4 separate regions of the Homo sapiens genome follow, and regions 1, 2 and 3 are each reported to be linked to region 4. The links are microRNA targets in miRTarBase. Many come from high-throughput screens and were not tested one by one. Region 4 holds a microRNA gene; each other region holds the end of a gene's coding sequence. Distances are from middle to middle.
Evidence for each region. Region 4 holds the annotated microRNA hsa-miR-143-5p (GGUGCAGUGCUGCAUCUCUGGU, at 1,142-1,163, opposite strand). A microRNA usually pairs through its seed, bases 2 to 8, with sites in the 3' UTR of a target mRNA and lowers its output. Matches are read on the target gene's strand: a 7mer-m8 pairs with bases 2 to 8, a 7mer-A1 pairs with bases 2 to 7 and ends in A, and an 8mer does both.

Region 1 (3,000 bases), not on the chromosome of region 4:
TCATTAATACATTTGTAAGCACGATTTAGTTTATTAACTTGAACAAATCATTTAACAATTATTAGGTACTTATAGAGCAGGCCTATTTGAATTTTAGTGATTATGGCTTTTCCAGAACTTCTATACTTGAATTCTGAGGCCCCCTTTTCTGTGCTATCTCCAAACCATATTATTTTGAAATTGAGTAACTTATACTTTCCTTTTTTATTGGGCAGTTATTCAGGTTATTTATTGAATAGAACAGTTTGTTGTTGACAATCTCAGCAAAGAGTTCTCTGACAACAGAGGGGAGGAAAATAGAATGTCAATCTGAGATAGCTATGTATTTGTGAAAGTCTAACTGCAAGAAGAAGTTGATCTTGGACAAAAATGCAAATAATGCCATTATTATTAATGAGTATATACAGTGTCAAAAATCCAAGTTCTTCCATGTGTTTGGTTTATGCATTATTTCTATGAGGAGAGAGGAATGAGGGGGTTGAAATCAGAGATGGGGAGGGGAGTTACTTTGGTGTAATAACAGCCATTGAGCTTTAGCTCTTAGGAGTGTGTGCTGGTGACCCTGCAGGTCAAACTAAGTTTAGAGCAAGTGAGTCAGTTAACTTCCCAAGATGATACTGGGTTCATTCTCTCTATATGCAACAAAATACTAGGTTTTCTGAAATTCTCACAGCATTGAAAACACCATTGCAATTATTTCAGAGCTCATCATCCATTCTGGTAGGAATTATTATTAAGGGAAACAGGAAGACTTTGAGCTGCATGGACTGAGTCTCTAACTGCATCATGCCTGATGGAGAGAGAAGAGGTTACTAATGGCCCACCTACCCATGGGGGCTAGGGCCATTTATTAGCAAAACGACAACTTTAAATAACTGTGTCTCAAACAATCCATCCTTGAATAAAGGAGGGATGGCCAATGTCTACCAGTCTTTAATACAAAGGTTAAATTTTGGAAAGCTGATTACACCTGAGAACAATTAGCTAATAATTCCCCTGAGTATTTTCATGAAATCTATGTACTGGTAGTTCCTTTGGCTCAAGGTGTTCTTTATGAACAAGACAAAAATTAAATGACTATATGTAGTGTTTTGATGACTCAGTCAGTGGCATCTTTATACTTACTAAGGTTCACAATAGTTTAATTTTTCAATTATGATAGATGTATCCATTTTTCTTGAATGTTATTCAGTCTTTAATGATTGAATTATTTTTTATATAATGATTTTTTCATGTTCTCCATCTTCTCATTAGGAAGGCTTTCTAATCTCCATTTGCTGGTCTCTAGTTTGGCTCCTAATACAATACATTATGATTTCATATACTTCTTATGCCAGAGACCGAAAGTCCAAGAAGGCAAGAAATCAAGCCTTATTCCCTTGTTGTCAATGCTTTGTACTTAATAGGTTCTTAATGCAAAATTTCAGAATAAACAAAAATATGAAAAATACCTTTAGAGGCTTCAAATAATGATTATATATATTTTAATCCTTTAAAGACATTAATAGTGATTATAGTTTTGCTTTTTTTATCCTACACCTATTAAGACTCCAATTACCTCTTTCATCAACACACCGCATGCTGATATGATTGATAAAGGTAGAACTATTTTCTATTATGCATTAATTAGATTAGCAGGACTTTGCAGTGGCTTTTTATGTTCTCTGTTCAAATGAAGAGAAAAGAAGTTGGTTTGGAATTATAACTATAGGAAAGTTGTGGAGTGCACTTGGTCTTCAGCTTTGTTTTAACAAAATAACTGCTTCCTCACTCTGCTTGTGAAGGGTGGCTAATTCAAGGTTATCAGTCAAGATTTTACTGTGTAGTTTATGGAGGATAGATGACTCAAGTCTGATGACAAATATGATTCCACTGAACTGACAGCTGAGTTATCTGTAGCACATTTAGATTTCAGGTATATAAACTTGTTTAGGAGTTTGATTTTCCTTAACTATCCTAGGAGAATCGAAGGACTCCTCCCCTATTTTGTTGTCTGCTTCAGCTTGATGGAACAGTAATGCAAATTTTCCAGCCTACTTTATTCCTCAGTTTAGGGAATGAATTAAAGTTATCCTTAGAAGAGAAAATAATGTAAATAAGAATGAAATATATGTATGTGCTTACCTATGGTGTACAATACAGGAGCTTAGGGGAAAGAACTGAGAAAGTGTGAGTTAGTGATCTTTACACCTGCATTTCACAAGTGACTGAGAATGAAGCAGATAAAAGCCATATATTATTATAAAAAGGAAATATATTTATGTGAAGTAGACATCAACATTAGAGATATGTCTGTAATTAAATAGAATTTAAACAGGGTTTCAGTGGAAATTGGTCCTAATATCTTATGATCCATTCATGCGTGACTCTGCCCTGTGAAAATGTGCAGGGGGAACATTCCTGGGTGATGGAATCAGAACTGAAAAAGATATGCAGGTACACGGTGAGGACGGTTGACAACACAGCATTTTTAATCTGCATCTATAGAAAACACTTATATAAGCTCTCTAATGGAGGGATTATAGAAATACATTTGATATATAATAGTGTACTTTTGTGTACTTACTGTGAAAATAGCACATTTATTTAGAGAAGGATTTTATGCCCAAAGTTCTTGTTGATGTTTTGAAATATATCCATTTCCTTCTGTTGTAGTAACTGTTATCAAGAAAAGGAAAAGTACCAACAATTTTCCATTATTCCTCATCAAAAGTCTTCTTTGACTGATAGTTCCCAGAGTCATCTAGAATGTTCACATCAGTAAAATGTTCTAGAAAAAGTCAGAGTTTGTGTTCTGGGAAGCGTCTACATTTGCCTGCATTCATGTCTCGTGCACATGGCCTGCCGCTCGATTCTCCATGTGCCTTCCTCATAAGTACAGTGGCATATGGTGCACTCGTCAGTCTTCACTTCTCTGCCAGCAGGGATCACCGCGGTTTCTGCAAAGCAGTTTGGACCTGAAATGCAGAAAAATGTTTTATACTATATGTGTGCATAAAT
Region 2 (3,000 bases), 140 Mb from region 4:
GGTCAAAGAGCATGGTGCTTTTTTTAGCTCTGCATCCTTGAGTCAGATGGGTTGTATCAATGTATGTACTAAGCCCGTTTTCCCGTGTTCCTGTGCCTTCTAGGTTACCGAGGAGACGAGCCTCGTCCTGCAGACCCTCGGATACACGTGCACCTGTCGAGGAATAATCAACGTGAAAGGAAAGGGGGACCTGAAGACGTACTTTGTAAACACAGAAATGTCAAGGTCCCTTTCCCAGAGCAACGTGGCATCCTGAAGAGTCACCTTCATTTTGGCAAGAAGACTGTATTTTCAGGAAGGTATCACACACTTTCTGACTGCAACTTCTGTCCCTTGTTTTTGATGTGCGTGCTGTCTGTCCTATGGAGCCTCTGCAGACTCGTTCTCGTGACCCAGTGGCATACCGTTTGGTGTCTGATGTGTGCCCAGATCGTTCTGCCACTTGCACTGTGCTTGCTCCTAAGCAAAAGGGAAAAGGAGCGCGCGTGATAGAAGAAAAGCACTGGGAGAACTAACAGAGGAGAAAGGTGAAACACACACACATTCTTAAGGCAATAAAACTAGGGGGTGTATATTATCTTCTGGTGCATGTTCTTTTCTGGAAAATATGGTAGCTCGCCAACCGCATCTGCTCATCTGATATTCAAACACACAGTATTCGTGAATAAGTTGATTCTGTCCCCCACGTGGACTCTGTGCTCACCCATTGTCTCATTGCCAGTGGTGTCCAAGGGCCCCCGTTGGGACCCACGGCTCTCGTCCCTCTGCTCCGTGTGTCTCATGCCAGCAGCACGTCGCCATCCGTCACCAGAATTAGTCCTCACAGCCTAGGACCAGTTTTGTATCAAACTCGTCTGATGTTTTGATGCCATTTGTCTTTTGTAAAGTTAATTCATTAAAAGTTTTATGTACTTTGATTTACAGTGCCTGTATCTTTTATTTTCCTGTCTTCTTTCTCCTGTGGTTTGCTCCAGAATTAAGGTTTGTTTTCCATCCATTCTCCCTTTTGACACAGTTGTTTCAGAAAGAGCTCTCCAGAAGCCAATATTGAGATGTAATTCAGATTAGGACACAGTGTGTGACGCAGATAACTGGTTACTCAGCTCCCTGGAAAGCAGGCAAGCATGTTGAATGTATCTAGTGGTCTGATTTTAATTTGGGCATCTCTAGAGAACGCTTTCAGGGAAAAATACTTTAATAGTAAAAAGATTCTCTGCGAGCAACAGTGCCCCCTCCGTCCACTACGCTCCTGTCTCCAAGAATGTTTTGCTAGAGCTAACAGACATAGACTGCAAAAGAATAATTTGGAATCAGCTATGCAAATCAGTCTCACAATAGCGTGAGCTAACTGAGAGAAGTACTAAGACCCACAAACTGCCTGTTAAGTCTGAGAAGGCTAAAGAAGACACACAGCCAACGTTCATGCATTTTTAAAGACAGAAGGCCTTGAAGAATTTGTTCTTGTAAATCCAACACAAGTTGTTTGGTACTTTTAACATAAAGAAATCATACTTTGCCAAATAGTGAAAAGTAGAGCAATCGTGTATAAGCTAATGTTTAAAAGCAAAACTGCAAATTGTAGCCCAGTTGGTCAAACTTGTTTTCTTTTTATAACTCATGGCAGGCATCTGTAAGAAGTAGAGAACCCAGATGATCTCTTAGGAAGCCTTTTATTCGTGGGAACTCGAACTTGAAGCACAAGTTCCTGGTTTGAATCCTGGCTCTGATTTTTTACTGGCTGTGTGACTTTGAACACATCTCTTAGTCCCTCTTAGGAGTACTTTCCTTATTGGCAACTTATGGACTCGCTAGTGATTAAACGAGGCAATGACTGTGAGCGAGCCTGGCAGGTGCCCCGTGGTACATTCACAGCACGGGCACAGCTGCTGTGCCAGGACTGTGACTCATTCCCAGTAAAAGGCACTTATCGAAGCTGATAACCGTCCTTCATCACCGAAGTGTGAGTAGAGCATGACTTATTTAGTATTCTGCCTCAATGGGGAATTTTTTGATCCTGTAATCACAACTCAGCATTGGCCTTAATATACCTAAATCTCCAAAAACAGTGATTAAAGCAAGAGAATTATTACAAGGGCTTTTCTCTTTCCTCTAACTCATTCTTCACGGATGCCGTAGCGTTTCCGTGAGCTCAAACTGGCCTTGGTGTAAAATGTGTAAGGATGAGCAGCAGGCGTGCCTCGTGGGTTCTTCCTCTGTTACATCCTGCTACACTCATCCGCAGGTCACCTTAGTTCACCTACCCTGAGTGAACACCCCCAGCTGGGTGGTCCACCAAGTTCTCATAAACAGAGTCCCTCCCATTCCCCCACGGGGTGCACCGAACTTGGGTTTGCGCTAAAAAGAACTCAAAAGGAGAACTGTGCTCTCCCAAAGCCATATCACCAGTCTTACCAAACAATAGGCTTTTAAAAGCATTGAGTCATTGTCAGAATCCACTATGGGAAGCTCTGTGTGTACCTGGTCCCTTCTAGGTGTGGTCCCATAGGAGCAGCCTTAGCATCCCCTGTGAACTTATCAAAAATGCAAATTCTCAGGCCCCAACCTGAAGGAGGACCCTGAATTTGAGATCCCCGGGGCTGGGGCCCAGCACAACTGCTGTTTAGTGAACAGGTTCTCCAGGTGATTCTGATCCCTGATCAAGCTTCAGACCTCCCTCCCTCCCCAGTGTTTTTGCAGGTGAGGAAACAGGGGCAGAGTAATTCAGGCACATGTGTTCAGAGTTCCACAGTTGATTAGCAGTTGAGGCCAGGCTAGAATGGAAAACTGCCTGTTCCTTGAATCTGAAAGAGCATTATTCCTGGTCAAAGCTCCTTAAAGTTCTGGGCAGCTAAAAGCATCCCTGTGAGCAAAAATGCCAGGCAGAAAACTGGCAGTGCACCTCTCATCAGCCCAGGTCCCAGTGCCATTGGCTTCAAGAAAAAAAAAAAATCTCTCCCCAATGCTCTCCTTAACCTTTAAGTCTTACAGGAAGCCTCTCAT
Region 3 (3,000 bases), not on the chromosome of region 4:
TCCCCTCTACTTGGAGGCTTCCTCCAGGACCCCTGATGATGAGGCCTGGGTCCAAACAGTCACACCTCAGTTGCTTTTCAGAAACATGCCTCCCAACTTTGGGATTTGAGAGCCAGCCTTGCCAGCCATTTGAAGCCCAGAGAAACAGCCTCCAGCCTTTACTTGCTATTACAATGTTATTTTCTGCAATGCTGAGGACACTTAAAAATAAAATCTATCTAGAAAGTGTGCAGATTAAAGAAACAAAATATCCTGAAATAACTGTTACAAGCAAATCCTATTGCACTCAGATTTCAAGATGGCAGCCCCAGCAAAAGGGCATCACAGCTGTCCCTCTTCAACAGGACATTTTGAGTAGCAGCAGATGTTGGTGCTGCTGAAATGTGGAAAGATCCAGACTTTGGCACCAGGAGCTATAGCACCAGAATCCAGGGCTCCAACACTCAAAGACAAGAATTATTGGCGAGATCTTTTTAGGCATGGCTTGGCGCCCTTCTGTTTCCATCAGCAGAGAAGAGCCACAGACTTAGTTTCCTAATACCTTTAGTTGACCACCACAGAGGTTGATTTTCTTTGAACTCTCAAGGTTGCCAACCAGTGAAGGAGAATGGCAGGGAGGCTGCAAGTGAAGGATGGCAGCCTTGAGTGAGCTAGTTTCTGGCCAGTAAGCCAGGAGAAGCAGCAGTAAGAGATCTTGGAAATAGCATCTTGAGCATCAGAGGTGGGGATGTGGACAGGAAAGGCAGGCCACATGACAATGCCTTTAGATTGGCAAAACTCTGGGAAGCAGAAGTATGAGCAATAGATTCCTGTCCCTGAAAGTAAGGTAGGTGCTCCCCAAGCCTCCTCACTGCCAAATCTGATACAGACAAGGTCAGGATGAACACTGGTTCCCATGCTGAGTGAAGGCAGAGAAGACAAATTCCTCTGGAGGAAGTCTTGAGTCTTCCTCTTGCCAGGAAATTCATAGGAGATGCACAGGAACAGGAGATACACAGACTTGGGTACTTTCCATAATACCTAGACTCCTAGAACGCCAGGAGATACTGTGTGGCACTGGGCAAGGCTGATGCCACAAAGAGCCTCAGAGACCATCCCATCTAATCCCTTCACACTTTGCAGATTGGGAAACAGGCCCACGGAGCTTCTCTGAGCTCATCCCCATGAGATTAAAACATACAGAAACTAAAAAACAAGGCCCAGAAAAACAATTGAGGGCAGGAGGGAAGAACCCACACGGATGATACCTTCCACAAGCAAAAATCATCCCATACTATTATAGATGGTGAAAACAGGAGAACCTTAGAATACCAGATTTGGTGCCCTTAGAGATCATCCATTTCAAAGAACTCATTTTACAGACAGGGAAACTGAGGCTCCAAGAAGACAATGACTCACCCAAGGTCACACAGCAAGGAAGTAAAGCCATGGGGAAAAAAATCCAGCTTACCAGACTGGTAGTTTAATGTTCTCTCATTCTGAGGGCAATAGTGTCTACTTCATAAAGGTAGCCTTTGAAAGAGGATCCCTTCTTTGAATTGACAGAATGCTAAAGAAAAAGCACTGCCAAGAATATACAATTCTTTTCAACTTCCCCATGTGACTGGTATAAGGAACCTAACCAATTTATTTACGTGGCTTTCTGAAAAGTTTGCTGCATTTTGAACTATATAAAGCTGAGGCCCTCAATGCGTATGTACGTATCACCTTTCCTCCAGCGAAGTCATCATGATAGTCGACTTGCAGAAATCCGGGGCCCACTTCTGTAGGAATGCATCAGCTTGGTAAAGTGCGATGCCTCCTCCATGGGGGATGGAGAAGGAGGAACAGGAGGGAGTAGTCTCACAGTCCATGCCTCTCATGGAGCTATTGCTTGTGGAGTGACTAAAGGGGTCTGCTTTCCCTCTTGCTGGGCACTTCCTAGAAGGCAGAGGATGCTGGGTCAGGCCCAGCTTAGCCTAGGGATTTTCCCAAGGTGGAAACAATGAAGTCAGCTTGAAGTCTCCAGCCACTGGAGAGAAAGCAGGCGATGCCAGCAGCATTACTGGTGCTCAGGAAAGGAGATGCATGAGGCTTGCACCTCCAGGTGCCTTTGGAAGGTGAGCAGAGAGAGCTGGGGTTGGGGAGGGATGATGTCATTCCAATGGGTATCCGCATGAGTATCTGCATGCTCTGCTTCCAGGAGACTGGTAAGCCAGGAGCCAGGTCAAACTTCAACCTAAAGGGTAGTCTCATAATCCTTTAGAGGCAGCACAGACCCCTTTCTGCTTTAAGTCTGAAGAAAAGAACTCCAAGGGGAAAGAAATGAAAGCCCCCTAGATAGAGCTGATGGCTGGTAAATCTTATGGGGTACTTGAGCCCATTGGGCAAATGAGGAGTGAAGTGGATATAGTGAGGAGACTGAGAAACCAGAACATTAACCACACAGACAGAGGCTGCCCTAGGATCCAGAAACAACCCACCAAGGAGCCGAGAAGAATTTTTGACTCCTGCTGTGTGCTGGGGACTTTATCTTCCCTTGTTTGGGGGCCAGAATGGTCCAACTACTTGGTGGACAGGGACAAGGAGAGAGAGAGGACTCGTGCATTGGGGAAGGTTGGGCCTGGGTGACTGTCCAGCTTGTAGTCTCTGATTCCCTCTGGCCAAATGGCAAAAATTACCTGAGCCACAGCCCGGCTCTACCACAGTTTTCCAGCCAAGGCTTGTGTCTTGCCTGGTTAACTGGCCTTGGATCCTTCGTGGGGCAGGACGGTGGAAGAGCTGAGAAGCAGGAGCAGAGGGCAGACAACAGACACCCAGCGGGCTCAGTTCTCCTCAGCACAGGGCCTGGTTGGCCGTAATCGTTCCTCGGCCCGTACTCGCCCAGACTCTGGCAGCCCCTGCTTCCCAGGCAGTTCAGACGGATCCAGGGAGTTGTGCAGTTGCCTGTAGACACTGAGTGTACAGTCTTCCCCTTCTTCCTCCTGTGCCAATAAATAACAAAAGTGAGCTGTGGAGGTC
Region 4 (3,345 bases):
TCCTCGGTCCCAGGTTCCATAATCACATGCAATGGGTAAAAACATGGATTTGAAGGCAGATTAGGGTACAATCTCAGCTCAGCACAATCAATATGTGACTTTAGGTGAGCTGCTTAAATAAGCCTCAGTTTTTCTCATCTGTAAAATGGGGCTATAACACCACCCACTTCCCAAGCTTTTGGGGAGGTTAAATGAGACTGTGCTTGGCTCCATGGCTCTCCTCTGCTGCTCATTGTGCTTCTGAAGCCTCTGGGAGAAGTCAGACATTTGTGACGTGCCTGGACTGGTTTCGGCAATACCCCGGAGCCAAGGTTAGAAGTACAGAGTGAAGACCCTGACTCAAAGGCCAGAATTTTTATCTTCAGGGCTGAAAGGGTTTTTAGGAATTGTTTGATCCACAAATGATGAATGAGTTTCAGCTGTGAATCAGTACTAGTGGCTTTCCAGGGCTCATTGTTGAGGATTCTGAAGCTGCATCTGAGCACTTCAAGAATGGATGCCTGGCGGGGCGTGGAGGCTCATGCCTGTAATCCCAGCACTTTGGGAGGCCGAGGCGGGCAGATCACCTGAAGTCAGGAGTTTGAGACCAGCCTGGCCAACATAGTGAAACCCCATCTCTACTAAAAATACAAAAATTAGCCAGGTGTGGTGGCGCACACCTGTAATCTCAGCTACTTGGGAGGCTGAGGCACGAGAATTGCTTGACCCTGGGAGGAGGAGGTTGCAGTGAGCTGAGATTATGCCACTGCACTCCAGCCTGGGTGATGGAGTGAGACTGTGTCTCAAAAAAAAAAGAATATATGCCTTTACTGATTAGCTGTGTCTGCCATGGGCTCAGAAAGAGAAAGCAGAGGCAGGGTGCTGGGGAAATGCTAACGCCTCATGCTAAGATGGACACACTGGGGTACACAGAGGAGTCAGGACATGCCCAGACTCGTGAAGCAGATCGTGGCACCAGGGGAACTTGTGTAGAGGAACTTCCCCAGCATCACAAGTGGCTGATAGTATGGAGTCTGGAAACACTCTGTCCTTCCTGTTATGGCCCCCCACAACCCCCCAGCACTTACCACTTCCAGGCTGATGGCTGCAGAACAACTTCTCTCTTCCTGAGCTACAGTGCTTCATCTCAGACTCCCAACTGACCAGAGATGCAGCACTGCACCTCAGGCTGGGAGACAGGGCGCTGCGCTGCTCCGCTCTGGTGGCCTGTGGCGGGACTCCAACCTGGCCAGGAGAAGGGGTGTTAGAGGGGACCTGGGCTCCACCTCTCCAGCTCTGGCCGGGAGGCTGTTGTAATTCCTCACAACTGTGTTTCCTGTCTGTGGCCTGCCATTTGAGCACCCAGGACCAAACCTTGACCTTTTTTCTCTTCTTTTCTTTGTTTCTTTCCTTTTCTTGTCAAGAACAGCTTAATTTAGAAGGAGGACATTTAGTGAGTACAATTAACAGGTTTTTAATATATTCACAAAGTTGTGCAAACAATGGCACAATATATTTTAGGTTATTTCACCATCCAAAAAAGAAGCTCCTTATCCTTAGACAACCCCTAGTCCTGGGCAGACCAGTTTCTATCTCTATAGATCTGTCTATATATTTTCTGGATATTTCAATACATGGAATTATTTAATATGTTGACCTACCTTTTGATGCCATGCCCCACCTTTATGCTTGGCGCATTCCAGCCTAACAGCATCATTCATGGTACTTAACATTTTATATCATCGAGCAATCAATTGTCTCCAACCTATCTTTCTTCTGCCACTCCTCCTCTCTTCCCAGCCATCTTCCCATAATGATTTTTCAAGATGCAAATATGCTCATATCTTACTCAAGTTTAATATCCCAAAAGGGCTCCCCATTGCCCTCAGGCTGAATTCTGAAGCCCTTCCCAAAGCCTGCGAGGGTCTGCCGCATCTAGCCCCAGTGACCTCTTCCTCTTGGGCTACAGCTCATAGATGTCCTTCCATTCTCCTAGGGAGCCCTGTGCCCACCCACTTCGGGCTCCCAGGGACTGTGCTGCTCCCCGTCACTCTCCCTGCCCATCTCTTCCTCCTGTGCTAGGTCTCTAATCAAGTGGCCACTCTGGGAAACCCTCCTTGACTTTTTTTTTTTTTTGAGACAGAGTCTCCCTCTGTCGCCCAGGCTGGAGTGCAGTGACACGATCTCGGCTCACTGCAAACTCCACCTTCCGGGTTAAAGCAATTCTCATGCCCCAGCCTCCCAAGTAGCTGGGACTACAGGCGTGCACCACCATGCCTGGCTAATTTTTGTATTTTTAGTAGAGACAGGGTTTCACCACGTTGCCCAGGCTGGTCTAGAACTCCTGACCTCAGGTGATCCACCCGCCTTGGTCTCCCAAAGTGCTGGGATTATAGGCATGAACCACAGTGCCCAGCCCCTCCTTTACTTCTTTAGCCATCAGCACCCCCTGCTTCATGTTCTCGCCCACCCGGTGCCCTCTTTCTAACCCTTTACCATGCTGGTAATGTGGTTTTCACTTACGACCACCTCCACTTGTGGACTACATGGCTCACCTGTGAAGGGAAGGGACCCTGTCAACTGTGCTCACTACTGAAATCAGGGCCAGGTGGTGTAGATGCCACATAAGCCCAGGTTGAATGGCTGAATCATAATTCCCAATCTCATTATCTCTAGTATCAGTGTTATTTGTGTGTGGGTCTGACCTGGCTAGATCTCCACTTCCTGAGGACAGTGCCTGTGTCTTGTTAATTTGGGGGGCCCTGGGTCTGACCTGTGGCTTGGTACATGATGATGGACCTAGGTAATGCCATTTGGTGGCTGATTGGATGACCATGTAGATAATTCATTTTGTTTTCTGGGCCCGGCTTGGGTGGGAACTTTCAGGTGAGCAGGCAAAGCCCCTTCTCACTCTTCCTGCCCTGCCAAGATCTCAGGGCACCCCAGAGGACCTTCTTGCATTGCTTAGTGGTCACTGTGGTGGCCTTGATGTTGGATGACATATATTTTCAGGAATGTCTGAAGGGGATGGGTAGCCTTTCTTCAGGGCTGAGAGAGAACAGAAAAAATATACCTCCTTAAAAAAACAAAAACAGAGCTGGGAGCAGTGCTCATGCCTGTAATCCTAGCACTTTGGGAGGCTCAGGCAGGAGGATCGCTTGAGCCTAGAGTTCAAGATCAGCCTGGGCAACATGGGGAGCCCTTGTCTCTAATAAAAAAAAAAAAAAAGGCTGGGAGCAGTGGCTTACACCTGTAATCCCAACCCTTTGGGAGGCCAAGGTAGGCGGATCACCTGAGGTTGGGAGTTCGAGACCAGCCCGGCCAACATGGTGAAACCCTGTCTCTACTAAAAATACAAAAATTAGC

Region 1: miRTarBase lists VWC2 as a target of hsa-miR-143-5p. Seed matches in the 3' UTR shown: 7mer-A1 at 2,383-2,389.
Region 2: the mRNA of ADCY2 is a reported target of hsa-miR-143-5p. The part of its 3' UTR that is shown has no 7-base or 8-base seed match.
Region 3: miRTarBase lists LUZP1 as a target of hsa-miR-143-5p. Seed matches in the 3' UTR shown: 7mer-A1 at 227-233.

The regions. Positions count from the first base shown.
Region 1 is chr7:49,911,991-49,914,990 of GRCh38, reverse strand. It overlaps VWC2 (von Willebrand factor C domain containing 2), which reads right to left. Exons shown (of 4, transcript NM_198570.5): 4 at 1-2,957. The coding sequence ends at 2,806. It also overlaps a transcript of ZPBP not described here. Among named protein-coding and RNA genes, the nearest start is that of VWC2, 140 kb to the right of the region's middle.
Region 2 is chr5:7,826,616-7,829,615 of GRCh38, forward strand. ADCY2 (adenylate cyclase 2) reads left to right here. Exons shown (of 25, transcript NM_020546.3): 25 at 104-3,000. The coding sequence ends at 256. Among named protein-coding and RNA genes, the nearest start is that of CFAP90, 23 kb to the right of the region's middle.
Region 3 is chr1:23,086,091-23,089,090 of GRCh38, forward strand. It overlaps LUZP1 (leucine zipper protein 1), which reads right to left. Exons shown (of 4, transcript NM_001395462.2): 4 at 1-2,963. The coding sequence ends at 2,805. Among named protein-coding and RNA genes, the nearest start is that of MIR3115, 43 kb to the left of the region's middle.
Region 4 is chr5:149,426,762-149,430,106 of GRCh38, reverse strand. It overlaps MIR143 (microRNA 143), which reads right to left and starts at 1,189; the gene lies at 1,084-1,189. It overlaps CARMN (cardiac mesoderm enhancer-associated non-coding RNA), which reads right to left. Exons shown (of 5, transcript NR_105060.1): 4 at 1,068-1,224.